4 linked regions of the Homo sapiens genome follow. The protein of the gene in region 3 interacts with the protein of the main gene of each other region in a pairwise test. Each region holds a gene or a part of one and is shown on either strand. Other genes may lie near its edges.

Region 1 (7,470 bases), on a different chromosome or scaffold from region 3:
AGGGCTCAAGCTTTTAAAGAGTCATCAGTATGGCATTATATTTGTGTTGAATGACAGCAGAGGAAGAGACAGCAAAAAAAGATTCTTAATCTGTTAAAAAGTAATATGTTTTCAAGAGGTTGATAGACGACGGATCAGCAGACTATAGCCTGGGAATCAGATAGCAGCCTGTTTTTGTGTGGTTTTGGGGCTAAGAATAGTTTGTAACAGAGGAACATTTGCAAACATTAGCAATTATAGAATATTAACTTTATACCCCAATTAAGTGAAATAATTTCTCTTGAAAAAGCATTCTATTCTTATTAATAGACCTGTATTACAAAAACTTTTACTGTTATTATTTCTGTTTCAAAATTTTTAAAAAATTGTGGAAATTTGATTCTCGTTTTTCATGTGAGTACTTATATAGTATTTTCAATTGTTGCTTCTTGATACAAAGTCTGAAGTATTTGCTTTCTGCTTATGAGGCAGAATTGAGAGGCATATGTAGATTTGAGAACAGGACAGTAACACCTGATGGTAGAGGAGCAAGGCTATTGAATCTATTGTGGAGAGAGACGTGGCAAATTAAAAGTTACTAGTGGAGTGGGGAGAGGTAGCGTGCTTGGAAAAGAATGTTTTTATTTAAGATTAGTGTTTCTATAGGGCAAAGTGATGAGAAGTTAAGGTTTTTTAGGTAAATTTTTTATCAGATATGACGTTCATTCATACAAGTACACAAATATAAATGTACTGGTCAATGATACATATTTTTTTCAAAATGAATAGCGAATACATTTATGTGACCACCACTCAGATTAATAAATAAAACATTACAGACATCCTTTTTTTTTTTTTTTTTTTTTTCTTTTTTTTTGAGACAGAGTCTTGCTCTGTGGCCCAGGCTGGAGTGCAGTGGCGCAATCTCGGCTCACTGCAAGTTCCACCTCCTGGGTTCACGTCATTCTCCTGCCTCAGCCTCCCGAGTAGCTGGGACTACAGGCGCCCACCACCACGCCCGGCTAATTTTTTGTATTTTTAGTAGAGACAGGGTTTCACCGTGTTAGCCAGGATGGTCTCGATCTCCTGACCTCGTGATCCGCCTGCCTCGGCCTCCCAAAGTGCTGGGATTACAGGCGTGAGCCACTGCGCCTGGCGACATCCTTAAACCTTCATCTTGACCCCTGTTAGTCACTACTCACACCCCCTAAAGGTAAGCTGTAGTCTGATGATTCATTTTGCCTGTTTTTGATTTTTATATAGGTGGAGTTAAGCATTTACCACCATGTACTGCTTTGTATGACATCTTTCACTCAGCATTGTTTGTGAGTCATCATGTTTTTAGGATAGCAGTAGTAGTTCATTGATTTTTCAGTGCCGAATGTTAATCTATTATGAGTATGCTGTGGTTTGTTTTCTCATTTTAACATTGATAGACTTGGCTATTACAAATAGTGCTCCTGTGTACATTTTTGGAAGTGCACTTTGACTATATGCACCCATTTGTTTTGGATGCCTCGAAACAATTGCTGGATCAAAAAGTATGTTTGGCTTTGGGAGATAAAAATCTTACAAAGTAGTTGTATTCCTGCCAGAAGAGAATAGGTTCCAGTTAGTCTACATCCACACCAACACTGGTATTGTCAGGATTTTTTAGGTTTTTATTGTAATTTTTAGTATGCATTTCCTTATGATTAATGACGTTGAGAACCTTTTCATGTGTCTGTTGGCCATTTGGTTGTCTTCTTTTGCGAAGTGCCTATCTTTTAGCCATTTCAATTGCAAGGTCTGTCTTGTCTTACTCATTTATAGGAGTTCTGCATGTAATTTGGAAGGTTCGATTTTGCTCTCATGGCTAAATACCCTTTGACCACCTTCATCTTTATTTTTTGTGGGCAGTGAAATATTGTGGCATTTTCTTGGATTTTTCTTTCCTTGCAAAATTAAGTTCAGTACAGAAATCTTTTCTTTTGCTGAAGCATTTCTGTCCGTGAATATTTTGTAGAATCTTTACATATTACTCAGTACACTTCATGTTGTTGTGAGTTTGTGTATATGTATCTATTTGCTCCCTGTACTATAGGTTAAATTATGCTTTTTTGGATCCTTTGCAAAGCAAAAGCCTGATCTGACATGGTTGACTTAAAAACTTGGTGCAGGTTGTTTCAGCAATGTGGATGGAGAAGCATATAGGAGTTTATTACTGATTACCTGGATGTGGAGAAGTGACAGCTATATGTGCTTTACAGGAAAGATGGCGTGGGTTTTATTTATACACAGCCTTGCCTAGAAAGGGTAAGAGATGGTTTGTAGGGACACATAAAAAATAAGGTCATGTAAATCAGAAGTAGGTGGGAATGTCTACAGTAATTCTCTTCATTTTAAAATTTTTAGGTAAGTAAAATACTTTTACGTCTATAGGTTGGTTGCTTGCCATATTGCTTGCCATTATTACAAGAGGGGAATGTTAATGGTTTATCGTATTTTATAAAGTATTTCTTGAAATATATTTCCAGGTAAATTAGTTTTAGTATTAATCAGTTTATTTGGGGAACTTAAATATATTCATTAGAAAGTTATCTTCTTTTGCAGATATATAATGAAAAGGAATTATTACAAGGTAAATTGGACCTTCTTAGTGATACCAACATGGTAGACTTTGCTATGGATGTATACAAAAACCTTTATTCTGATGATATTCCTCATGGTAAGTTTTGTCATTAGAACTGAAACTTGTCTTGTGACTTGAGGATGTGTGTATTAAAGTTTTATGATTTATAAGACAGCTTTAGCCAAAAGGCTTAAATATGATTTGAATGTTAATGTTCTTTGGGTGAGAGGTTATATAAAGGTTTCATATCTTCCGAAATATATTGTTTTCTCCCTGTGAAAGATGTGGAACTACTTTAAAATATGGTCATCAGATGCCTTCATTTCATAGTATGTATCATCAAAGTTGTGCTTATGATTCACATTCCTTAGAATTATCTGAGAATGTTGCAGTTCTTGGGTTGCTAACTTTTTCAGTTAGTGCATTGTGTGCCTTAGAGTTTTGTGTTTTTTTTTTTAATTTTGAGGCATCTAGTGTAGACATTGTTCTCCAAATATGGTCCCCAGGACCAGCATCATCAGTTCACCTGGGAGAGCTTGTTAGAAATGCAGGTTTTTGGCCACACACCAGACCTACTTAATCAAAACTGTTAAGTGGTCCTCTTAAGTTTGGGAAATAATTCTGTGTCATTTCTTCAATGCACATTACATTTTTAAAGGTTCCAAGAATTTTGGCAGTAGAGAAATACAGTATACTGTGATTAAATTGGCATTTCTCAAAATTTGATCATAGATCTTCTGTGTTTCAGAAAGACTGCTCTAGAATATACTTTCTAATATATAATACAGACATTATTACATTAAACATAATCCACATGTTTGACTTGTAGTTCCCTGCAATAACAGTATCTCTTTTTTAGTTTGTCATGGATAAACAAAAAGGAAACTATTTCTTAGTTTCTTTCTTTTTTTTTTTGAGATGGAGTCTCGCTGTGTTGCCCGGGCTGGAGTGCAGTGGTGCGATCTCGGCTCACTGTAAGCTCCGCCTCCCGGGTTCACGCCATTCTCCTGCCTCAGCCTCCCGAGTAGCTGGGACTACAGGTGCCCACCACCATGCCCAGCTAATTTTTGTATTTTTAGTAGAGACGGGGTTTCACCATATTGGCCAGGCTGGTCTTGAACTCCTGACCTCGTGATCAGCCCGCCTTGGCCTCCCAAGTTGCTGGGGTTACAGGCGTGCGCCCTTGCCCCTGGCCTATTTCTTAGTTTCTTAATGAAACATTAAGGTGTTACCAGAGTTGGTTATGTGCAAGTTTTCTCCACCTTTTCATAGTATAGTAAAAGGAACGATAGAATTTGGTTTGAGAGATTATAGAGCTGGATTTGTGGTTAAAAGAGATTATTTAATGGATTTAAATTCCATTCAACCTAGTTGATAACCTGTAATAGTAATATGTAAATCCCTCTGAGTTTTTCTTCAAAAACTCTGGGATAATATTCACCTAAGAAAATTAAATGAGAACAAATATAAAAACACTTGGAAAGAAGTTTCTGCAATGGAGAATTAAATGATAGATAATTGGGTCCTACCCTTTTTTTCTTTCACATCCCTCTGTCACCCCAAGGCTGTATATTCTCTAGTTTCCCTCAAGAGTAGGAAGAGGATTCCCTTTTCCTTTTTGTGCCTTTGTATTAGTAGAAAAAAGAAATTAGGGATCGGGGACATTTCTGACTGAGTAGCCCATGGCATATGAATATATTGGGGGTAAATAAATATATGTATAGTTTAAATACACTGAAAAATTTCCAGACATTCTCATGATGAGTAGCACAATTTAACATTCCTTAACATTGTAGTGCTCTTCTGCATTTTTAATTAGCTTTGAGAGAGAAAAGAACCACAGTGGTTGCACAACTGAAACAGCTTCAGGCAGAAACAGAACCAATTGTGAAGATGTTTGAAGATCCAGAAACTACAAGGCAAATGCAGTCAACCAGGTAAACTCGTCTTAATTTTGAATTCTAAAAATTCTCCTTTCTGGATTAATACAAATGTTAATTCAAACTTTATCCAGTATCCCATAGTAAAAGTTCATGGTTTAAATGAGTGCTTTATTCATTTTTAATTTTTGTTTATCCTTATTTTGTAGGGGCCAGTATAATTAATAAATGTTAATATTAACACTAAGTTTTTTTCCTAAAAAAAACTTCTTTAGTACTTATCTATACTGATTATACTACAGAAATTCCATCTCCTGTTTCCCCCTTCCTGGGGACATTTGGCAATGTCTGGAAATACTTTTTGGTTGTCATAACTGGAGGGGTGCTATAGGGACCTAGTGAGTAGAGGCCAGTTATGCTGTTAAACATCCTACAGTGCATAGGACAAGCACTGCTGCCGCTACTCCCCAACAAAGAATTATCCGACTGAAAATGTCCATTAAGAAACCCTGTTCCACTGTGTGGTGGCTCACACCTGTAATCTCAGCACTTGGGGAGGTGGAGGCAAGTGAATCCGTTGAGCCTAGGAGTTTGAGACCAGCCTGGGCAACATGGCGAAACCCTCTATCTTACCAAAAAATTAAAACCAATAAAAAGTTAGCCAGGTGTGGTGGTGTGCGCTTGTAGTCTCAGCTTACTTGCTACTTGGGAGGCTGAGGTCAGAGGATGGCTTGAGCCCGGGAGGCGGAGGTTGCAATGAGTCAGTGTCATAATACCACTGCATTCCAAAGTAGGTGACATAATGAGACACCATCTCAGGAAAAAATAAAAAAGAAACCCTGTGCTTGGGCAATACCTAGAACCTTAGAACACATGGGTATCTCGTTATAAGAGAAACCTGAGCTCACTTTATCCCTGGCTACATTCTTTCATACCCTTCCAAGCTCCATGCCCAAGGAGGGTAGTTTTGAGCTGATAAGATTATTTTATTCCTAACTTCCCTTTACCTACAAATAGACGTTACTGTTTCGTTTCCAAAGAAAACATATTGCCTTAGTCTGACGTAGTACATGTCACGGGTGGAAGTCTTTTGGGTTACTAGAAACATTTAAAAATAAAATCTCTTACTAAAATTGAATATTGTCATTTGAGATAAATCCTAGCTACCAGTAAATTCACTTGAGGAATTGCTGGATATTTTGCCGTGCTATACCTTTGATTTCTATGTATTTAAACCAAATTTTTAGAGATTGGCTCTTAAGTTTTCCTTTGTGATTTGTGAAGGTGTTACCAGATATTTTTAGAAAAGCAACAAATATACAATTACTGTGCCATACTATAGCGTACTATACTATACTATACCATACCATACTGTGACATATACTACATACAAATGCAGTTAGCTCTCTGTTCTGCATCTGTGGATTCAGCCAACTGCAGATTGAAAATATTCAGGGAAAGAAACTAAAAAATAACAATACTACAATAAAAAATACAAATAAAACTACAGTGTAACAACTAACAACTATATGATATTTACATTGCATTAAGTGTAAGTAATCTAGAGATGATTTAAAGTGGATGGGAGGATGTGTATAATTTACATGCAAATACTGTGCTATTTTACATAAGGGACTTTAGCACCTGCAGATTTTGGTATTTGAGGGGGCTCGTGAGTAGGGGGTAGGCAAGGTCTTGGAACTAATGCTCTGGGGATACCAAGGGATGACTATATGCGGGAAAACACACAGAGATATATACACACATCATGCGCATAGACAGAGCTATATATTATACTAAACTACTTTTATGCTTTTAGAAGAAGTAATTTTAGATCTTCAGGTCACATGTAGGTGATTACAAAGGGACAGCGGAAATAATCCAGATGTTAGACTACAACAGAAAATTTAGGATGCTGTAGTTTAGTCACTCAAAGACTGGGAAGTAATGGGATCAGAGCATGAATAAGATGAATGTACATGTGTTCACCAGTTAGAAAAAGAGGATCCTTGTAGCTTAATAGGTACTGAGTTTGAGATAAATGAAAGGATCATGTGTTAAAAACTTGTAATCTTATACTTACAGACTACCTATTTTCAATGTAAAAACCTTTTTCTGACAATTCACCCTTTTTAAATTTCATTGAATATATAGTATCGTACTTACACTTTCCCGGAAATAATCAGCCAGAGGACAGTGATTATATACGTGAGTGGTATGAGTAGTGCAATACAAAGTTATTCAGTGTGATCCACTGCAAATGTTCAGTTTTTGTTGAAGTTCTTCTATGTTGGAATTTCATGTACATTTCATAATCAGTATTGTAATACACCTATATTAATTTTTATGGGGACATATCTCTGCTCCATTAAATCTTCAAGCAAAATTGTGTTCCCAAAGACACATTATAGCATATTTCTTCTCATGAGAAGGATAAGAAAATGTTTTTGTTTTGGAAAATGCAGTCAGGTGCAGTAGCTCATGCCTGTAATCCCAGCACTTTGGGAGGCCAAGGTGGGTGGATCACTTGAGGTCAGGAGTATGAGACCAGCCCGGCCAGCGTGGTGAAACCTCATCTCTACTAAAAATACAAAAATTAGCTGGGCATGGTGGTGCACGCTTGTAATCCCAGCTACTTGGGAGGCTGAGGCAGGAGGATTGCATGAACCCGGGAGGCGGAGGTGGCAGTGAGCCGAGATTACACCAGTGAACTCCATCCGGAGTGACAGAGTGAGACTCCGTCTCAAAAAACAGTAACAACAAAAATGCTCATAAGGTGGGCAACTATACACATATATCCCCTGTCCCTTGATGTCTTTCTTTATTATTAGTTTGTCTTTTACTAGTCTGTCAACATCTCAAGATAATGCAAAGCTAATTTAAGAAAAATTAAATATGGCACTTGGTTATACCTAAGGATTGTGTAGGGTATGTAGCATAGCTGTCATGTATATCGGACATGATTTTTAAATTTTTATTTATTATTTTTTTTTGAGACAG
Region 2 (7,470 bases), on a different chromosome or scaffold from region 3:
ATTCTGACTATGTGGCTGTTGTGATCACTACTTGGAAATAAACACAAGACAGTGAAGCAGGCCTCAATCCCACATAGTTTTGAAGGTTCCTTGTCATTTTCTGGGAGCCCCTGATGTGTCCTATTCCTCAGAGAGCTTACTCTTCCCCACTCTTCTCTGCCCTACCAGGCCAAAGGGTCTTTCTCTTCCTTTATCCCTCCACCCCATTTCCTTCCACCACCACTTCAGTCAAGGAGTTTTTGTATCAGAAAGTTATCACAGGCCAGTTATGGTGGTGCACGCCTGTAATCCCAGCACTTTGGGAGGCCAAGCTGGGTGGATCACTTGAGCTCAGGAGTTTGAGACCAGCCTGAGCAATATGGTGAAGCCTGGTCTCTACAGAAAACACAAAAAGCAGCCAGACGTGGTGGTGCTTGCCTGGAGTCTCAGCTCCTTGGGAGGTTGAAGTGGGAGGATTGCTTGAGTCCTGGAGGTCAAGGCTACAGGGAGATGAGATGGCATCACTGTACCCTGACCTGGGGGACAGAGCGAGACCCTTTTCATGCCCCGGGACATTTGCTGGTGCTGTTTCTTCTGGTTGGCATACCCTTTCTGAGGACTGCCCAACTTTGCTCTGAGCCAAGGGTAGAAGGAGATGTGGCCCTTATCCATTCCTCCAGCTTTTCCCCTACCCTCAGAGCTCTTAGGCAGTGGGTATGGCACCTTGGAAGCTGCAGCAGGGTCAGGGCACATTGAGTGACTAAGCATAGCAAGTACCAGGTGGACGGGGCAGAAATGCCAGAGGTGGGAGCTGTGCTCTGCCTTAGGTCCTCTAAGTTTGTGTGTGAGTACAGCCAGTGTCTGACCTCTTGGAAATGTGACCAAGACCACAGTGAAGACTAGATGATGGTCCTGTGCTTTCCCCACTTGTTGATTTCTTTCTTGGCAGAGTATGAACTAGGACACACCTTGTGTTCCTGTGTGGCAGGCGTGACTGGATCCAAGCTTTCTCCCCTGCTTGCTTTAGATTTTCCTGGACATTTCTTAGTCATCCCAGCACTGAGCTTCTATTTTTAGTGCCACTACCTCCTAGGGGACCTAAAATAAAGCTGGCTTAGCTTCCTGCTCCCTCATTGGCTTGAGTGTTGGTCACAGAGCGGAGGATTGGCTGCGTTCTCACTCTTTCCCTACACGATTCCTCCCCGCTGGCTCCTCTGGCTTTGGGCGAGGTCACACGGACTGGAGTGAGCTAGCACTTACCATGTTGAGCTGAGGGCTTTATCATGTTCCTTTAGAGAAGCTTCACAACCACCGGCACTGTCAGGTTGCCATCCCCATCTTATAGTGGAGGAGGCTGAGGCCCTAAGAAGGGCAGTGACTTGCATCAGATCCCACCACTGCGAATGCTTGTCTGCTGGGGTGGAACCCACCTCCTCACTGCTTTGGTTCAGAGTCCTATTATCAGGACAGAGGGAGTGGGCTCCTCTACAGTTGGGGCCATCCACAGAAAAACATGTGGGTCTGCAGTCAGGGGATCTGCAGCAAGATGTGGGCTTCCCTACTTGGAAGCAGCCTAGCAAAGCCCAAGCGGCTCTCCCATCTGGGGCTTGGGTTTTCCATCCAGTATCCTTACAGCCATGGTCTCTAGTTGGGAGGGGGCCTCCTCTCAGAGACCCGAGAGAGACAGCTCCTTAGGGTAAAAGCAATGCTGGGATGAGGGGATATGAAGGGATGACACGTTTCCCTTCACAGCCTCCATCCCCTCTTCCCACAACCCTCAGCTTTCCCTCTGATCCTTGAACTCATGTCCCCAGCTCTGAAGTGGGTAGGAGTCACTCCCATCAATGAAGAAATATCCTAGAAAGGGCCAGGTCAGGTAATCACCTGGCCTCGGGGAAGTAAACTGCCCCCATGAGACTAAGGGATCACTTGCTGTTTTTGGCAGAGGAGGGCCCTTGGCTGGGTACAGTGGCTCACGCCTGTAACCCCAGAACTTTGGGAGGCCAAGGCGGGTGGATCACTTGCAGTCTGGAGTTCGAGACCAGCCTGGCCAACATGGTGAAATCCCATTTCTACTAAAAATACAAATTAGCTGGGTGTGTTGGCAGGCGCCTGTAATCCCAGCTACTCTGGAGGCTGAGGCAAGAGAATCACTTGAGCCCAGGGAGCGGAGGTTGCAGTGAGCCAAGATCACGCCATTGCACTCCAGCCTGGGCAACAAGAGTGAAACTCTGTCTCAAAAAAAAAAAAAAAAAAAAAAAAGAAGAGGGGCCTTGAGAATCTCCCCACATCCTCACTGGGTCTTCCATCTGTCAGCGTAGCCCTGGGACAGTGTTGGGGGCCTGAGGGCTGTAGTACAAAATAGTACACACACACAGGTATCAGTTGTTCTTGGCTGTAAAGTGGGAAGAATAGCAATAACTCTGTCCTTGCAGGTTGTTGAGAGGATTACATGGAAAGATACTGGAGGAGTGCTTAACTCCTCCCATAAGGCCCCTCCCCTTACTGGGCTTTCAAGGGCCTGCTCTGACCTTTCTTTGTTGTAGATCTACCCTTAGCACCCCTCCTGTGTGCTCCACGACCCTATCATCTATGTGTCTCATCAACCAAGAACTCAAAGGAGAGGCTGGGTCTGATCTACCTCTGGGCTCCTAGCACTGGTCTGGCTTGGGAGGGGTCTCCTGCCAGTTCCCCAGGGCCTGTCCGTGTTCTCTGAGAGAACAGATCTCAGCAAAGGACTCCAGGAAGGCCAGTGAGGGGTGGGGGTCAGTGGCTGGTCACCTACTCTCATGGTACCAATGCTTCCCTCCTGGTCTCATTGGTCTTGCAGGTCTCCGTGAGGCCGGGTGACGCTCCAGAATGGGAGACAAGCCAATTTGGGAGCAGATTGGATCCAGCTTCATTCAACATTACTACCAGTTATTTGATAATGATAGAACCCAACTAGGCGCAATTTACGTAAGTTTCCAGCTCTAGGGCCAGAATGGACCCTAGGGGATCAATTTGGATGTTGGGCCAGTGTGTCCAGTTCACAAGTTCTGGCAGCCCTATCTGGACTGGCTACACCTCTGTATCTGAACTTTTGTCCACGGGACAGGGGTCTGACGCTTGGCCCAAGTAATTACCTGGTCTATACTTTTCCTTTTGTCAACTTCCACAAGAGTGAGAATCCTGCTGTTCTGGGCTTGCCATTCCATGTGGCCAGCATTTGTCATGGCACATGGTTTTGGATTGGGCAGCAACAGGCAGAGGTTAGGGCTCATGGTGCCCTCTGGAGGCAGCAGCCATGAGCATCCTCAGTGCAAAGCTGAGCTCTCTTGGAGGCCTGGGGTCCAGCTTCCTTTTGGATCCAAGGCTCCTGAATGCTCATGGAAAACAAATGAGGTTAGCCCAGGGAGGCTGATAGGTCATTTCACAAACCCTTCTATGCAGGCATTGCTGGCTGCTCTTTTTTTTTTTTTTTTTTGAGATGGAGTCTTGCTCTTTCGCCAGGCTGGAGTGCAATGGCTCGATCTCAGCTCACTGCAAGCTCCGCCTCCTGGGTTCAAGTGATTCTCCTGCCTCAGCCTCCCGAGTAGCTGGGATTACAGGCGCCTGCCCCCATGGCCAGTTAATTTTTTGTATTTTTAGTAGAGATGGGGTTTCACCATGTTGGCCAGGCTGGTCTCGAACTCCTGACCTCGTGATCCTCCCACCTTGGCCTTCCAACGTGCTGGGATTACAGGCGTGAGCCACTGCGCCCGGCATTTGCTGCTCTTTTAACGATGTTCATATACACCAAGAACTAATTGTACTTGACTCTGCCTGAGAGTCAGTCACAAAAATGTGATTGATCAGGCAGGTGAGCCCAGGATGGGGGTGTTAGGAGTAATCCAGGCACAGTCTCAGAGCCTGATTGGGCTGACTCTCCACAGTCTTCTGTGTCTGTCTCCAGAAAGTCAGTGTCCATTCAGAAATTTTGGAAAAAATAATGAAATTTTATTAGTGGAAGACCAATTCCAGCACAGATATTTGATTGTCATTATCATAGTAGAGTTTTTTTTTTTTTTTTTTGAGACAGAGTCTCACTCTGTCAACAAAGCTGGTGTGCAGTGGGGTGATCTCAGCTCACTGCAACTTCTGCCTCCTGGGTTCAAGCGATTCTTGTGCCTAGCCTCAGGAGTAGCTGAGGCTACAGGCATGCACCACCAAGCCTAATTTTTTTTTTTTCTTGAGATGCAGTCTCACTCTGTCGCCCAGGCTGGAGTGCAGTGGTGCAATCTTGGCTCACTGCAATGTCCATCTCCTGGGTTCAAGCTATTCTCCCATCTCAGCCTCCCAAGTATCTGGGACTACAGGCACGTGTTGCCATGCCCGGCTAATTTTTGTATTTTTTAGTAGAGATGGGATTTCACCATGTTGGCCAGGCTGTTCTTGAACTCCTGACCTCAGGTGATTTGCCTGCCTCAGCTTCCCAAAGTGCTGGGATTACAGGCATAAGCCACCGCGCCCGGCTACACCTAATTTTTGTATTTTTAGTGGAGGTGACATTTCACCATGTTGGCTAGGCTAGTCTCCAACTCCTGACCTCAGGTGATCTGCCTGCCTTGGCTTCCCAAAGTGCTGGGATTACAGGTGTGAGTTACCATGCCCAGCATAGAGTTTTTGAAACCTTGAAGTGATCTGACCTGAGATCCTGGCACTTGTGCCTCATTATCACTCTCCCTTTTTTTTTTTTTGAGATGGAGTCTCACTCTGTCACCTAGACTGGAGTGCATTCATGCGATTTTGGCTCACTGCATCCTCTGCCTCCCAGGTTCAAGCAATTCTCATGCCTCAGCCTCCCAAGTAGCTGGGGTTACAGGCACGCACCACCATGCCCAGCTAATTTTTGTATTTTTAGGAGAGACGGGGTTTCACCATGTTGGCCAGGCTGGTCTGGAACACCTGACTTCAAGTGATCTACCCACCTTGGCCTCCCAAAGTGCTGGGATTACAGGTGTGAGCCACTGCACCTGGCCTCATTATCTCTTAAAGCAGGCCTGAGCCAGAGAAGAGAGTTAGCAAGGTCCTAAAAGAACAATTTATATTTATTATTTCATAATACTCAGCACATTACCCCTTTGAAGGTTAGGAAACTAAGACTCAGAGAAATAACTTACTTAATGTCACAGCTAGTAAGCAGCAGAAGCCCTTTTGAGTTCTGCCCTTGAAGGCTGTGGAAGGGAAGATTTGAGGTGGAACTAAGCTAAGTGGGTTACATTTGAGATTTTGCTTCTTGGTGGTAGGGAGGGTCCCAGACTAGGCCTTGGAAGGCCCTGTCAGCCTCTATCTCTCCCTGACCCCATGGGTATCCAGAAGGCTAGCTAGAAAGTCCACAGTGGAACTTAGCCTCGGCCCTGGAGGGTGATGAATGTGGAATTTTTCCAAGTTATTTCTGATGACTTTTTTTTTGAGATGGAGTCTTGCTCTGTCACCCAGGCTGGAGTGCAGTGGTGCGATTTCGGCTCGCTACAAACCGCCGCCTCCTGGGTTCAAGCAATTCTCCTGCCTCAGCCTCCTAAGTAGCTGGGATTACAGGCGTGCGCCACCATGCCTGGATAATTTTTGCATTTTTAGTAGAGTTGGGGTTTCACCATGTTGGTCAGGCTGGTCTCGATGTCCTGACCTCGTGATCTTCCCGCCTTGGCTTCCCAAAGTTCTGGGATTACAGGCGTGAGCCACCGTGCCTGGCCACATTTCTGATGACCTTTTGGGACTGACACTGACTGACCACACAGCAGGATGGCTGAGCTCAGGCCAATATAGCCCTCCTGGGCCTATGCATATCAGAGACCATATGACTTCTTAAATACAAATGGGAAGTATATTTTATTAAATAGTCTTTCAAAGCCTGGGCCCAGGGTCAATGGGGTAGAAGATGTTGATAGTGTAATGTTTGGGGGCTATACTCAGTCTCCTTCTTTAGACAGGGAAACTGAAGTGTGGCCACACTTCTCCAAGCAAGGCCCTTTTCAGAGTCTTTCCAGGGCCTTAGAGATACTTGTACTCTGAGGCCCCAACCCTGGGGTTTCCTGTGCCTTTTTCAGATTGACGCGTCATGCCTTACGTGGGAAGGACAACAGTTCCAGGGGAAAGCTGCCATTGTGGAGAAGTTGTCTGTAAGTAGGGAAGAAAGCCAGGGTGCAGGTGGCTCCTTTCCCACCCCTTCTGGCCTTGGTTCTCCCACCTCCCACTCTCTCTCTTGTAGAGCCTTCCGTTCCAGAAAATTCAGCACAGCATCACCGCGCAGGACCATCAGCCCACTCCAGATAGCTGCATCATCAGCATGGTTGTGGGCCAGCTTAAGGTAATGGTACTGCCACAGTGGTAGGGAGGGGTGGGCAGGCAGAGGAGAGTCTTGTACCCCTGCTTTCCCTGTGGATGTGACCTGCTTATCTAGGGACACCCAGACAAAGTGACTGTCTAGAGCTGCGTAGTTCAGTATGCTAGCCATTAGCCACATGTAGGTGGCAATTTTTAAGTTATATTAATTAAGATTAAATAAAATGTACTTCTTCGGTTGTACTAGCCATATAGAACATTTTTGTGACTGTAGAAAGTCCTATTGGCAGACACTGGTCTAGAGCCTTTATCTGGAAAAGGGAGAAGTATAGGAGTAGGATGGGACTGGGGTGCCAAGCCACTAGGCTCCCACTCTGCCCTAAGGTCAAGGTGGACAGGCTAGCTGGGTGCGGAGAGGCAGTCCACTCCTGCAGCCCTTGCTACCACTCCTCAGGCTGGCTGCTGGCTCCTTGCCTGCTGAGCAAAGCAGATTCCTGGAACTCCTATTTCTTTTTTTTTTTTTTTTTGAGACGGAGTCTCACTCTTGTTGCTTAGGCTGGAATGCAGTGGCACAATCTCAGCTCACTACACTTCTGCCTTCCGAGTTCAAGCAATTCTCCAGCCTCAGCTTCCCAAGTAGCTGGGATTACAGCTGCCCGCCACCACACCCAGATAATTTTTTGTATTTTTAGTAGAGACAGGGTTTCACTATGTTGGCCAGGCTGGTCTTGAACTCCTGACCTCAGGTGATCCACCTGCCTCGGCCTCCCAAAGTGCTGGGATTATAGGCGTGAGCCACCTATTTCTCTTTGCATTTTCCTTCCTCCTTCTCAAGACCTATTATTCTCAGAGACTTCCTGTGGTCCCTCAGACCCCCCAAGAACTCTCCAAGGACCTGTTGTGCTTCAGCATATTAAAGTCAGATTCTGGGCTGGGCGCGGTGGCTCACGCCTGTAATCCCAGCACTTTGGGAGGCCGAGGCAGGCAGATTACCTGAGGTCAGGAGTTTGAGACCAGCCTGACCAACATGGAGAAACCCTGTCTCTACTAAAAATACAAAATTAGCCAGGCATGGTGGCACATGCCTGTAATCCCATCTACACGGGAGGCTGCGGCAGGAGAATCGCTTGAACCTGGGAGGCAGAGGTTGCGGTGAGCTGAGATTGCACCATTGCACTCTAGCCTGGG
Region 3 (7,470 bases):
CTTTTTACTTATTTTCTTTCGGGAGCTGGGTCCTAAGAGTTGCAAATAAAGGGAGATCATTTGCATTTTTAAATTATTCCACGTCTAATGTTTCATGCTGTTTTTTAAAAACAAATTTTCCGTTTATTTTTATTTCCTTTTTTTGTTTTTGAGACAGAGTCTCACGTCTCACTCTGTCGCCAGGCTGGAGTGCAGTAGCGTGATCTCGGCTCACTGCAACCTCCGCCTCCTGGGTTCAAGCGATTCTCCTGCTTCAGCCTCCCGAATAGCTTGGATTACAGGCGCGCGCCACCAAGCCCAGTTAATTTTTGTATTTTTAGTAGAGACGGGGTTTCACCATGTTGACCAGGAAGGTCTCCATCTCTTGACCTCGTGATCTGCCCGCCTCGGCCTCCGAAAGTGCTGGGATTACAGTGCTGGTGTTACGGGTGTGAGCCACTGCGCCCGGCCTCTATTTCCTTGTTTGTTTTCCTGTTTCACTCTTCCATGTTCACCAGTGTTATTTATTTATTTATTTACTTATTTATTTTGAGACAAGGTCTCGCTTTGTCGCCCAGATTGGAGTGCAGTGGTAACAATCACAGCTCGCTGCAACCTGCATCTCCCGGGCTCAGCTGATCCACCTCAGCCTCCCACGTAGCTGGTACTACAGGTGTGGGCCACCATCCCCAGCTAATTTTTATATTTTTTGTAGGAATGAGGTTTCGGCCGTGTTGCCCAGGCTGGTCTGGAACTCCTGGGCTCAAGTGTTCTTCCCGCCTTAGCTCCCAAAGTGCCGGGACTACGGGTGTGAGCCAGCGCCCCTGACCCTCGTGGTCATTTTCAACCTTATGAAATGTGAGTTGCTTGGCCCCGGTGGCTCACGCCCATAATCTCAGCACTTTGGGAAGCCCACTAGGGCAGATCACTTGAGCTCAGAAGTTCCAGAGCAGCCTGGGCAACGTAGCGAGACCTTGTCTCTACTAAAATTCAAAATAAAATAGCTAGATGTAGTGGCGCGCATCTGTAGTCCTAGCTACTCAGGGTCGCTGAGGCAGGAGAATCGCTTCAGTCCAGGAGGTAGAGGTTGCAGTGAGCCGTGTTCACACCACTGCACTCCAGCCTGGGCGACAGCCAGACCCTGTCTCAAAAACAAAGAAAAATTACTTGAAACCAAAGAGGACGGCAAGTCGGCTATGTACTACTTTAATTTTAATTGCAAGTCGGCTGTGTACTACTTTAACACGTTTAACTTCAACAACCTTTGACTTAGGCATCATTCCCATCTTAGAGACATGAGAATTCCGAAATACACGGGAATCAAGTGGTTTCTCCATCTAGGGAGTGGCAGAACCATACTATCTCAGCAGTTCCCACAATTAATTCCTTTACCAGGTTCTGTGAGTCCTAAACTTTTAAAAAGGCTTTTCTTGGCCGGGTGCGGTGGCTCACACCTGTAATCCCAGCACTTTGGGAGGCCGAGGGGGGCAGATCATGAGGTCAGGAGTTCGAGACCAGCCTGGGCAATGTTGTGAAACCCCGTCTCTACTAAAAATACAAAAAATACAGGTCGTGGTGGCGGGCACCTGTAATCGCAGCTACTTGGGAGGCTGAGGCAGGAGAATCACTTGAATCCAGGAGGCAGAGGTTGCAGTGAGCCGAGATCACGCCACAGTGCTCCAGCCTGGGCAACAGAGCCAGACTCTGTCTCAAAAAAAAAAAAAAAAAAACAACTTTTCTTACTTGTTTATATACTCATAGAAAATCCACAGTTTTATTGGTGTTTTAAGGTAGAAGCTGAGAAGTAAAATTGCTAAGTCATTACCCAGTTCAATTTTTGGTAGGTGCTCATTGTCCTCCTTAGAATCCTTTTGGATACTTCCCCCGAAAACCTCATGATTTTGTATTAGGATCATATTAATCGTATTAATGTTAATGGATCAACCTAGACATCTTTGTGGTGTTAAACATGATCCATTACGTTTCTTCAAGTAACCTTGGTATCCCTTGGTAACATTTTATTTGTTGCTGTTATAAATGGACTCTTTATCAATTATGTGTTCTAATTAGATGTCTGCTCATATAAAAGCTATATTAATTTTTGAAGGTATCTTAATTTTGTACCTAACCACTGTATTAGACTATCTGGTTTTAGTGGCTTCTCATTTCATTATGTTGGTTTTCGGATAAAAAATTATGTCAGGTAGCAGCCGGGCTGGTGGTTCATGCCTTTAATCCCAGCACTTTGGGTGGGTCACTTGAGGTCAGGAGTTCGAGACCAGCCTGACCAACATGATGAAACCCTGTCTCTGCTAAAACCACAAAGTTAGCCGGGCGTGGTGGCACGTGCCTGTAATCCCAGCTACTTGGGAGACTGAGGCAGGAGAATCTCTTGAACCTGGGAGGTGGAGGTTGCACTAAGCCGAGATCTCACCATTGCACTCCAGCCTGGGCAATAAGAGCGAAACTCCGTCTCAAAAAAATTAAAATTAAAATTAAAATTAAAAAATTGGCTTTTCTTTGGGAGGCCGAGGTCTGCAGATCATTTGAGGTCAGGAGTTATTTCAGGTATTATAATTATGTCTATAAATAATGATAGGGTTTTCCGCTCCTTTATAATTTTTATACATCTTACAACTTTCTTCTAATTCCATTGGCTAGTACATCCAGAAAAAAATGGTAAATAATAGCGGGCAACCCTGGCTTGTTCTTGACTTCCATGTGGAATGCTGGTAAAGATTCTCCAGCATTAGAGTGGGTTTTAGGCATTTTATATGTTAAGAGAGAACACATCTAGTCAGGTTTAACAAGAATTGAAAATAAATGTTACGGAATTTTTTTTAGACCCAAGTTTAACAAGAATTTAAATATTATGGAATTTTTTTTACAGCTTCAATTTGAGTCTTACGGAGTGTTTTTGTTTTGTTTGGATTTGGTTTTGCGAGACAGGAATATTATGGAATTTTTTTTTACAGCTTCAATTTGGGTCTTTCAGAGTGGTTTTGTTTTGTTTGGATTTGGTTTTGTGAGACAGCCTCTTGCCATGCTACCCGGGCTGGCCTCAAACTCCTGGGCTCGAGTAGTCTTGGCCTCCCTCGTCGCTGAGACTACAGGCTCAAGCCACTGTGCCCAGCCCAATTTGATTGTGTTTCATACAGATAGCCAGTTTTCCCAGCACCAACCCGGACTTGTTAAATAGTCTGTTCTTTTCTCACTTTTAAAGTACCACCTTTATGATTATGATACGCTAAATGTTTACACATGCTTTGGTTTGTTTCTGGACTCCTTCCATCAGTTTTTAAAATTATTTCAGGCCAGATCCAGCCCTGGTGGCTCACGCCTGTAATCCCAGCACTTTGGGAGGCCGAGGCGGGTGGATCACCAGGTCAGGAGATCGAGACCATCCTGGCCAACACGGTGAAACCCCGTCTCTACTAAAAATACAAAAAATTAGCCAGGCGTGGTGGCGGGCACCTGTAGTCCCAGCTACTCGGGAGGCTGACACAGGAGAATGGCGTGAACCCGGGAGGGGGAGCTTGCAGTGAGCCGAGATTGCGCCGCTGCACTCCAGCCTGGGCAGCAGAGCCAGACTCTGTCTCAAAAAAAAAAAAAAAAAAATTATTTCAGGCCAGGCATGGTGGCTCACACCTGTAATCCCAGCACTGTGGGAGGCCAAGGCAGGTGGATCACTTGAGGTCAGGAGTTTGAGAACAGCCTGGTCAACATGGTGAAACCCCATCTCTACTAAAATACAAAAATTAGCTGGGCGTGGTGGTACACACCTGTAATCCCAGCTACTTGGGATTTAAAAAAAAAAAATTTCAGATCCAATTCCATTTGTTTTTTGTTTGTTTGTTTGTTTTTTTGAGATGGAGTCTCACCCTGTCGTGTAGGCTGGAGTGCAGTGGTGCAATCTTGGCTCACTGCAACCTCCACCTCCCAGGTTTAAGCGATTCTCCTGTCTCAGCCTCCTGAGTAGCTGGGATTACAGGTGCCCGCCACCATGCCTGGCTAATTTTTGTATTTTTAGTAGAGACTGGGTTTCACCATATTGGTCAGGCTGGTCTCGAACTCCTGACCTTGTGATCTGCCCGCCTCGGCCTCCCAAAGGGGGATTACAGGCATGAGCCACCGAGTCCAGCCCAATTCCATTTTGTTTTAAATAATTATCTGAGTTGTATTTCTGAAATTTCATTGCAGGTAAAAAAGAGTGTCAAGTGGACATGCAAAGCTTGTGGAGAGAAGCAGTCCTTTTTGCAGGTGAGTCCTACAAAACAGAAAGCAAGTGGGGCGCAGGCCTGCAGCGAGCCCTTCCAGGGAGTCCCAGCATGCCACAGCTGGGATCATCCTCTCTCAAACAGAGTTCCCCAGACACGGAGCTCCTGCTTCCGAGCTTCCTGTTCCTTCAGGAAGTGAAATGGATGGAGCAGAATCTGGAAAGGTACTGCCATTTGATTCTTCATTCAGCAAGTATTTCTTGAGTACTTTCTGTGTGCCAAGCACAAGGGGAACAGTGGAAAGTAAGCCCATTGTCATTCTTGCCCTCACAGATGCACTTGTGTGGAAGGGGAAGAGAAACTAATGCACACATGCATCTGCATAATTTAAAACTCGGCTGAGCACAAGGAAAGGAAAGCACTGGGGACTGTGAGAAGATGACAGAGGAATCAGGGCAGCCGGGGAAGGGCAGAGGCCGTTGGTGGAGGTGGAGGTGTGGGATAGTGGGCTCAGGAAGTGGAGGCAGGCAGGGGCAGGCTGTAAATGCTCTCATCCAGCTGTTTGCAGCTGGCATTCAGTACGTCTTTTCAGTCCATCCGTATTGCCCCTCCTGAACTCTAGGACCCCAAACTGTCCTGCATCCTTTGCCTTACTGAACTTGCTCTTTTCCTGCTCCAGCCCCAGTGCCACCTCTCCCTTCACCTCTCATCTTTCCTCTCCTTCTACAGCCATGTGCTTTCTTTCTGACCTTAAACCCAAATTTGCTCCCTCTTCAGGCCTTTGTGCTCACTGTGGAGTTCCCCTCCCTCTTCTCAGTATCCTATGGAAGTTACATAGTCATGTGTTTATGCACGGATTGTCCATCTAAGGCTGTAAGTTCCGTGAGAACAGAGGCTTTTTATTTGCTGGTGTATCCGCAGCACCTAGCACAGTGCTCGGTGTTTGTGGAGTGAGTAAGGAACTGGCCCAACCTTGTTGGGCATTTAGGTTGATTTCCCTTTTGACTGTTATGCACAACTCTACCGTGAAGCTTTTCACAAAAACCTCTTTATCCACGTGACCAGCTGTTTACTGTTTACTTAGGACAAAGTCCTAAAAGTTAAATTGCTGTTTTTTGGGGTTTTTTTTTTTTTTGACATGGAGTCTCTCTCTGTCATGCAGGCTGGAGTGCAGTGGCGCAATCTCGGCTCACTGCAACCTTCGCCTCCCGGGTTTAAGCAGTTTTCCTGCCTCAGCCTCCTGAGTATCTGGGACTACAGATGCATGCCACCACACCCAGCTAATTTGTTTTTTGTATGTTTAATAGAGACGGGGTTTCACCATGTTGGCCAGGCTGGTCTTGAACTCCTGACCTCAAATGATCCACCTGCCTCCGTAGACAAAAACATTTCATAATGTTGGTGAGTGCCTTCACCTGATATTTTTTATTTTTTTATTTTTTTTTAGACGGAGTCTCGCTCTGTCACTCAGGCTGGAGTGCAGTGGTGCGATCTCGCTCACTGCAAGCTCCGCCCCCTGGGTTTACGCCATTCTCCTGCCTCAGCCTCCTGAGTAGCTGGGACCACAGGCTCCCACCACCACGCCCGGCTAATATTTTGTATTTTTAGTAGAGATGGGGTTTCACCATGTTAGCCAGGATGGTGTCAATCTCCTGACCTCGTGATCTGCCCACCTTGGCCTCCCAAAGTGCTGGGGTTACAGGCGTGAGCCACCGTGCCTGGCTGATATTTTTTTTAAAAAAGGGAAAAAAAACACTTCAGAATGGGTTCAGCAAAGTTAAAAAATAAATAAATAAATAAATAAAGTGCTGGCAAGGTAATGAGATCTCTTAGGGAATCCAAGGGCAGAACTTCATCCCCGGTCCCTTGAAAAACTAGCCCCAAGAACTGAAAAGCTGCCAACAAGCCAGACATCAGCTTTTCCTGCCCATCACCCAGCTTCTCCCTATATCTTTACTCTATTTTCTCCTCTCCTTCCCTTTCTGTTTCTCCCCAGACTGTTCAGTCAGATTCTCTGCTCCAAGTCCATAGAATCTCATTCCAAGCCAACTGGAAGAGCTGAGTCTCAATTATAAATTCCTAGGAGAAGCAACCTGGTTGGCCCAGGCTGACTCGGATGCCCACCTCTGGTCCAGTCAACTGGGATTGGGTCTCAGAAGAGAGGGGCTGGCTTACCAGGTAGGCAGACACCCCACATGGTGAGCATGGCTTGTTTGAGATGTATATATTTCTACATTCTCCTTGAGGAAGCCTTCTTACTCCCCTCAATGCCTCTGTGCTGTGTGTGGTATGTGGTGTATGGCTGACTAGGCCACAGTAACAAACACACCAAAATTGTGGTGGCTTAATACAATAGACGTTTCTCTTGCTCTCATAACAGTCCTGGGAAGATGATAAGGTCAGCAGGGCGCTGCCCTTGATGTGGTTGCTCAGGGATCCAAGCTCCTGCCATCTTGAGCTGCTTCTATTCCCTGAGGCTCATCTGTAGCTGCTTCTAGCCACTGTGCTTCTAGCCACTGAGAAGGGCAGGTGCTTGGAGGAGCTACCGAGAGGCTTTGAGGGCCAGGCTGGGAAGCAAGTGACAGTGCCATGGAAAGAGGCTGGTTTCGTGGCCACCCCTGACCACACGCACACTGGAAAATGACATCTAGTTTTCGGGAAGAATGCGCTTCAGTATCCATCCAGCAGTCCCTGCCCTATGGAAGAGCACACCGCTACTGGTTATGCCAGCCTGGTCTTTGCCATTTCCCCCTCCAGCTACTCTTCTCCGTTCTCAGGCGAATGTGCTCCAAACAGGACTGCACTCCCTACGTGTCCATTACAATTGCTTCTGTCAGCGTCAGCAGTGGTCTCTGTGTTGCTAAAAACAACGGTTGGTTCTCAGTTCTCACTTGACTTACTAGCTGCCAGGCACTGGGAGTCCACCAGAATTCTGTGCTCACGGGACATCAAGAATGCTCCTGCCAGTGGGGTGTTGAGGAACACTGGACACGTATAGTGTGTGTGTCTGATCACAGATGTGCTCCATTGTCCCAGCACACTTCACTTAAAAAACACAGGTTCAAAGGCCAGACTGTTAAGAATTTCAAGATGGCGACAGCAGAGCGGCTGTCACACCCTGAAGCTGATTCTGCCTGTGCCATAGCAGGACGCATGCTCTCAAATTCCATCTCGTACCATCTGCCTGTGCCATAGCAGGACGCATCCTCTCAAATTCCGTCTTGTACCATCTGCCTGTGCCATAGCAGGACCCAGGATCTCAAATTCAGGCTCT
Region 4 (7,470 bases), on a different chromosome or scaffold from region 3:
TGAACAGAATGGTATCTCACATCTTAATACTAATGTTGAATGTAAATAGCCTAAATGCTCCAATTAAAAGATACAGAATCGCAGAATGGATAAGAATTCACCAACCATCTGCTGCCTTCAAGAGACTCACCTAATACATAAGGACTCATGTAAATTTAAGGTAAAGGGGTGGATAAAGAAACTCCATGCAAATGGACACCAAAAGTGAGCAGGAGTGGCTATTCTTGTATCAGACAAAACAAACTTTAAAGCAACAGCAATTAAAAAAGACAAAGAGGGACATTATATAATGATAAAAGACCTGTCCAACAGGAAAATGTCATAATCCTAAATATATATGCACCTAACACTGGAGCACCCAATTTATAAAACAATTACTAATAGACCTAAGAAATGAGATAGACAGCAACATAATAATAGGGGGGGACTTCAATACTCCACTGATAGCACTAGCCAGGCCAAGACAGAAAGTCAACAAAGAAACAATGGATTTAAACTATACCCTGGAACAAATGGACTTAATATATTTACAAAACATTCTACCCAACAACCGCAGAATATACATTCTATTCAACAGCGCATAGAACTTTCTCCAAGACAGACCATATGATAGGCCACAAAATTAGCCTCAATAAATTTAAGAAAATTGAAATTATATCAAGCACTCTCTCAGACCATAGTGGAATAAAATTGGACGTCAACTCCAAAAGGAACCTTCAAAACCATGCAAATACATGGAAATTAAATAACCTGCTCCTAAGTGAGCTTTGGGTCAAAAATAAAATCAAGATGGAAATTAAACAATCATTCGAACTGAATGACAATAATGACACAACCTATCAAAGCCTCTGGGATACAGCAAAGGCAGTGCTAAGAGAAAAGTTCAAACCCCAAAACGCCTACATCAAAAAGTCTGAAAGAGCACTAACAGACAATCTAAGGCCACACCTCAAGGAACTAGAAAAACAAGAACAAACCAAACCCAAACCCAGCAGAAGAAAGAAAATAACCAAGATCAAAGCAGAAACAAATGAAATTGAAATAAACAAACAAAAAAAACAAAAGATAAATGAAACAAAAAGCTGGTTCTTTGAAAAGCTACATAAAATTGATAGACCATTAGCAAGATTAACCAAGAAAAGAAGAGAGAAAATCCAATAAGCTCAATTAGAAACAAAATGGAAGATATTACAACTGACACCACAGAAATACAAAAGGTCATTCAAGGCTACTATGAACACCTTTACGCACATAAACTAGAAAACTAGAGTAGATAGATAAATTCCTGAAAGATAAAACCCTGCTAGCTTAATTCAGGTAGAATTAGATACCCTGAACAGACCAACAACAAGCAGCAAGACTGAAATAATTAAAAAACTACCAGCAGGAAAAAGTCCAGGACCAGACAGATTCACAGAAGAATTCTACCAGATATTCAAAGAAAAACTGGTACTATTGGCACTATTCTACAAGATAGAGAAAGAGGGAATCCTCCATAAATCATTCTATGAAGGCAGTATCACCCTAATACCAAAACCAGGAAAGGACATAACCAAAAAATAAAACTATAGACTGATATCCCTGATGAACATAGATGCTAAAATCCTTAACAAAATACTAGCTAACCGAATTCAACAACATATGAAAAAGATAATCCACCACGATTAAGTGGTTTTCATACCAGGGATGCAGGGATGATTTAACATACGCAAGTCAATAAATGTGATACACCACATAAACAGAATTAAAAACAAAAATCACACGATCATCTCAATAGATGCAGAAAAAGCAATCAACAAAATCTAGTACCCCTTTCTGATTAAAATTCTCAGCAAAATTGATACAAGGGACATACCTCAATGTAATAAAAGCCATCTATGACAGACCCACAGCCAACATAATGCTGAATGGGGAAAAGTTGAAAGCATTCCCTCTGAGAACTGGGACAACATAAGGATGCCCACTCTCTCCACTCCTCTTCAGCACAGTACTAGAAGAAGTCCTAGGCAGAGCAATCAGACAACAGAAAGAAATAAAGGTCATCCAAATAGGTAAAGAAGTCAAACTGTCACTGTTCACTGATGATATGATTGTTTACCTGGAAAATCCTAAAGACTCCTCCAGAAAGCTCCTAGAACTGATAAAAGAATTCAGCGAAGTTTCTGGATACAAAATTAATATACACATATCAGTAGCTCTTCTTTACACCAACAGCGACCAAGCTGAGAATCAAATCAAGAACTCAACCCCTTTTACAATAGCTGAAAAACAAACAAACAAACAAAAACTTAGAAATATACATAACCAAGGAGGTGAAAGACCTCTACAAGGAAAACTACAAAACACTGCTGAAAGAAATAACAGATGACACAAATAATGAAACAAATAATGGAAACACATTCCATGCTGATAGGGTGGGAATCAACATTGTGAAAATGACCATACTGCCAAAAGCAATCTAAAAATTCAATGCAATTCCCATCAAAATACCACTATCATTCTTCACAGAATTAGAAAAAACAATCCTAAACTTCATATAGAACCTAAAAAGAGCCCGCATAGCCAAAGCAAGAATAAGCAAAAAGAATAAACCTGGAGGCATCACACTACCTGATTTCAAACTATACTATAAGACCATAGTTACCAAAACAGCATGGTACTGGTATAAAAATAGGCACATAGACCAATGGAATAGAACAGAGAGCCCAGAAATAAAGCCAAATACTTACAGCCAACTGATCTTTGACAAAGCAAACAAAAACATAAAGTGAGGAAAGGACACCCTATTCAACAAATTGTGCTGGGATAATTGGCAAGCCACAAGTAGGAGAATAAAACTGGATCCTCATCTCTCACCTTATATAAAAATCAACTCAAGATGGATCAAGGACTTAAATCTAAGACCTGAAACTATAAAAATTCTAGAAAATAACATTGGAAAACCTCTTCTAGACATTGGCTTAGGCAAGGGTTTCATGACCAAGAACCCAAAAGCAAATGCAATAAAAACAAAGATATATAGCTGGGACTTAATTAACCTAAAGAGCTTTTTCACGGCAAAAGGAACAGTCAACAGAGTAAACAGACAACCCACAGAGTGGGAAAAAATCTTCATAATCTATACATCTGACAAAAGATTAATATCCAGAATTTACAATGAACTCAAACAAATTAGCAAGGAAAAACAAAGAAGCCCATCAAAAAGTGGGCTAAGGACATGAATAGACAATTCTCAAAAGAAGATATACAAATGGCCAACAAACATATGAAAAAATGTTCAACATCACTAATGATCAGGGAAATGTAAATCAAAACCACAATGTGATATCATCTTAGTCCTGCAAGAATGGCCATAATCAAAACATCATAAAATATTAGATGTTGGTGTGGATGCAATGAACTGGGAACTGCTGGTGGGAATGTAAACTAGTACAACCACTATGGAAGATTCCTTAAAGAACTAAAAGTGTGAAGATTCCTCAAAGAACTAAAAGTAGAACCACCATTTGATCCAGCAATCCCACTACTGGGTATCTACCCATTGGAAAAGAACTCATCATACAAAAAAGATACTTGTACATGCATGTTTATAGCAGCACAATTTGCAACTGCAAAAATATGGAACCAACCCAAATACCCATCAATCAATAAGTGGACAAAGAAAATGTGATATATATGATGGAATACTATTTAGCCATAAAAAGGAATGAATTAATAGCATTCACAGTGACTTGGATGAGACTGGAGACTATTATTCTAAGTGAAGTAACTCAGGAATAGAAAACCAAACATTGTATGTTCTCACTCATAAGTGGTAGCTAAGGTATGAGGATGCAAAGGCATAAGAATGACACAATGAACTTTGGGGACTCAGGGGGAAAGGGTGGGAAGGGGGTGAGGGATAAAAGACTACAAATTGGGGGCACTGTATACTGCCTGGGTGATGGGTGCACCAAAATCTCACAAATCACCACTATAGAACTTACTCATGTAACCAAACACGACCTGTTCCCCAGTAACCTATGGAAATAAAAAAAATTGTTTTTAAAGTAGTGGGATAACATCAGCTTTCCCAGGTAGAATAAGAACTTGATTGTTACGTAGAAAGAAAAGAAAAATTATATTTAAATACTGTGTTTAAAAATATACTTTTCATGGAATTTTATAGCAGGCTGGGCTCCTGATTATCATGTATTCTAACCTTCTGAGTTTATAGACGAGGAAATTAGAGATTGTGACTACAAGGTCACAATGTTAGCTGGTAGGAGACCCAGAATTAGAATCCAGGTCTTCTAACTCCCAGGAAGTGCTCAGAATGCCACAATAAACATAAAAATATTTGTATTTACTTCAAGATGAAGGGGGGAAATGCTGCATAAATATTTTCATATCACACACAATTATAAAAAGCCAAGTCACATTTTTAATTTTACATTATTATAAGCATATATGGTACGTGTTTGACTTGCCAATTTTCAGCAGTGACACAGACAAGAAATAAATTTTGTTAATTATTCATGTCATTTTAGAACTGATATTTATTGAGCACTAAATATATAATAAACTATATAAGTCCTTACCTTCATGAAGTATACACTCAGGTGGGACAGATAAACACTAAACAAATCAGCAACACAAATTATAATATAGTGCTGCAAAGGGGAAAAAAAAAAAAGAGAGGGAAGTGATATAGAAAAATGAGGAGGAACTGCCATAGCAGAGTGGCCAGGAAAAGCCTCACTGAAAGGAAAGATGGAGTCAGCCACTTAAGGATGGTGGGGAAGCTATTTCAGATAGGAGAAATGCCATGTACAAAAAGGCCCTGAATTGGAATTTTCAAATGCTGCCATTTCAAGGAAATCAGTAAAAATAAATCCAATGTATTGAAACATGATAGGTGAGAAAAAGGACCCAAGATGAGGCTGGGGAGAGAGCAGGGAGGGCCAGCTCCAGTAGGGCTGTGAGGAACCTGTAGAGTTGGATCTTTATAGATGATAGGGAAGCCATGGAAGTGTTTCAGTCAGTATGTGACATAATCTGATTTTCAAAAAATAAGCCTGGCTGCTCTGTGGAAAATAAATTTATGGTAATAGTGAGGATGAAAATAAGTAAATGAATTAGTTACATATTTTAGAAGCAGAAACAATAGAACTTGCTAATAGATTAGATGTGGATTGTGAGGGGAAAGAAGAATGAAAGATGACTTTCATGTCACAGTGAGGTGAATGGTGGTAATGTTTACTGTATTGGTTAAGAAAGCCTGATGGCATTTTCCCAGAAAAATGACATAATCAGAGCTGAACTCTAGAGAATAAACAAGGCAGCATACCTGTTATAAGCATAAGGACTAGGAATGAGACTAAAACAACAGTTAGGTAGTCATTTGGCTTGTCTGAACTATGATAGTGGCAGAGGAAATGAAAGTGAGAGATATTTGACTTGGCAACTCATTAAGTGTGGAGGATAAAGGAGAGAAAAAGCCAAAGATGGCTCAGGTTTCAAGCTTGGATTACCTAGTGGAACCACACAGGGAAAGCAGATCTATGGGAAAAGGTGAGGGATAGAGATAAGTTAGAGACATACAGAACTTGAGGTACCAACAGTTCATCCAGGTGAAGATATCCCATGGGCCAGGGGGATACAGATCTGGAGTCTCAATGATGTCAGAGTTGGAACTAAATAGTGACATTCTCTACGGTGAGGTGACGGTTGAAATCACGAAAGTGGGTGAGATCTCAAGAAAATTATATAAAGAATGAGATAGAGCCTTGAAAATACTTGTAAGTTAAGAATTGAAAAGAGGAAGGGAGGCTAAAGAATAAGCAACCACATAGAAAGAAGGAGGAAAATGAGAGTCATGGAGGCAAAAGAAGAGCACAGTTTCAAGAAGGGAGGAAGGGTCAACAGTGTCAGATGGCATAAACAAGCCAAAGACAATGCTGGCAAAGTAAACCTCTCTAGATCTGGTAAAAGGACAGCACTGGCTACCTAGGAGAAAGTATTCTGGGGCTGTGGGTAGGGAGAAGTCAGATTGTAAGTGATTTGACAGTCAAGTGAGAAACAAAGTTATCTTGCTTAAAGGCATCACAAGGTATTATAGAAAGAGGACAGGATGATATGACTCTAGCTAGAGAAGCAGTCACTAGAGTGTCTGAAATAGAAATAATATGAAACTTGAAGATGAAAAAGATGAAAGAAGAACATCAGAAATAAAGAGCTGGAAGTCAGTCTGGGAAACACAATATAGTAGGTGATGCTGGAATTATACAGGAGCAAGGGGAAAAGATGAGGGCACTTGGAATAGATGTCCTGGTCTTTATTACCTAAGTAAGAAATGAAGTTATATTCTGTCTATGAGGAACAGTCCTAAGAATTTCCAAAATATAGACAAATATGTTGGCTATTATGTGGACCTCTGGGTATTAGAGGTCCTTCATTTAAAATTAGAACCTTCATTTAATTCAGAGAAACCATAATTCCCTTATTATAAACAAACAAACTTAGTTTCAAAGTCATGCATTTAGCTTCTCTCTACCCCATTATCTATGCTAAGGCTCATTTATCTAGAAATTGTGATGATCCAAGTAAAATGAATTGGAAAATAAAAATAATATTTTTATGTGCACTATCCTTAAAGAAATGAATTATGAATATTAAATAAGTACAAATTAAGTAACAACAATTAGTGTAAAATAACATAGAAAACAAAAAATAGGAAGCCTATTTCCTACTCAAGCGCAATTTCTCCTCTGAATTTTACTAATACTTTCTTACGACATATATCACTTTATCACCTTCTACTTTATAACAGTTACTTACTATTCTTTTCAGTAAAAATTAAACATACCAGGATTCATATCTTGGTAATTATTTAGTGCCTATCCCACTTCTCTCTTGTATTTTCAGCCCTCTCCCTTCTCTGCTGATTTTGCAATGTCTGTCAAAGCCACAAATAAACAAAAGAAACAAGCAAAAGGAAAAGATACATCCAATTATATAAATCATACTGTTTAGTGGATGTTTAGGTTCGGCCTATGAATGCATATGTGAATGTGTCCCTATAAATGAGTTAAGTGGGGAAGAGGAAATGATACAGATTCTAGTTGAGAGACTGAAATTGTTTAAAAATAAGTGACTATCATGTAAATGGCATAGCTCCTCCCCAGCCTCTAGCTTACAACAGGTACTCAATAAAAGTTGGCTGGCTGGATGAAAATGTTATAGACATTTAACAGGAATAATAAAATAAAAATTAAGACAAGAAAAGAAACAGACTAAGAGTAAATTAAGAAAGCTAACTTATCAAAACTGATCAGTACTTCTCAGAACCAGTTACACATAAAGCTCATCTGGAAATTAGAACTGATGAGGGTTGGAATAACGTAACTTTCTTAAAAATCTCGCCAGTGATTCTGCTACATGGTCAGGGCTAGGGCTACTTCACTTTAGTGAAAAGAGGAGGCTCATTGA

The links.
Region 1: the proteins of MRNIP (region 3) and EIF3E interact in binary tests that used the Homo sapiens proteins (3 or more experiments, as listed by UniProt).
Region 2: the proteins of MRNIP (region 3) and NUTF2 interact in binary tests that used the Homo sapiens proteins (3 or more experiments, as listed by UniProt).
Region 4: the proteins of MRNIP (region 3) and EFHC1 interact in binary tests that used the Homo sapiens proteins (3 or more experiments, as listed by UniProt).

The regions. Positions count from the first base shown.
Region 1 is NC_000008.11:108,237,015-108,244,484, reverse strand, and holds part of EIF3E (eukaryotic translation initiation factor 3 subunit E), read left to right. Parts: intron 1-2,571; coding exon 2,572-2,686; intron 2,687-4,409; coding exon 4,410-4,527; intron 4,528-7,470. UniProt on the Homo sapiens protein: Component of the eukaryotic translation initiation factor 3 (eIF-3) complex, which is required for several steps in the initiation of protein synthesis.
Region 2 is NC_000016.10:67,862,293-67,869,762, forward strand, and holds part of NUTF2 (nuclear transport factor 2), read left to right. Parts: intron 1-2,809; 5' UTR 2,810-2,838; coding exon 2,839-2,937; intron 2,938-6,047; coding exon 6,048-6,119; intron 6,120-6,208; coding exon 6,209-6,307; intron 6,308-7,470. UniProt on the Homo sapiens protein: Mediates the import of GDP-bound RAN from the cytoplasm into the nucleus which is essential for the function of RAN in cargo receptor-mediated nucleocytoplasmic transport.
Region 3 is NC_000005.10:179,850,147-179,857,616, reverse strand, and holds part of MRNIP (MRN complex-interacting protein), read left to right. Parts: intron 1-4,179; coding exon 4,180-4,239; intron 4,240-7,470. UniProt on the Homo sapiens protein: Plays a role in the cellular response to DNA damage and the maintenance of genome stability through its association with the MRN damage-sensing complex.
Region 4 is NC_000006.12:52,424,760-52,432,229, reverse strand, and holds part of EFHC1 (EF-hand domain-containing protein 1), read right to left. Parts: intron 1-7,470. UniProt on the Homo sapiens protein: Microtubule inner protein (MIP) part of the dynein-decorated doublet microtubules (DMTs) in cilia axoneme, which is required for motile cilia beating.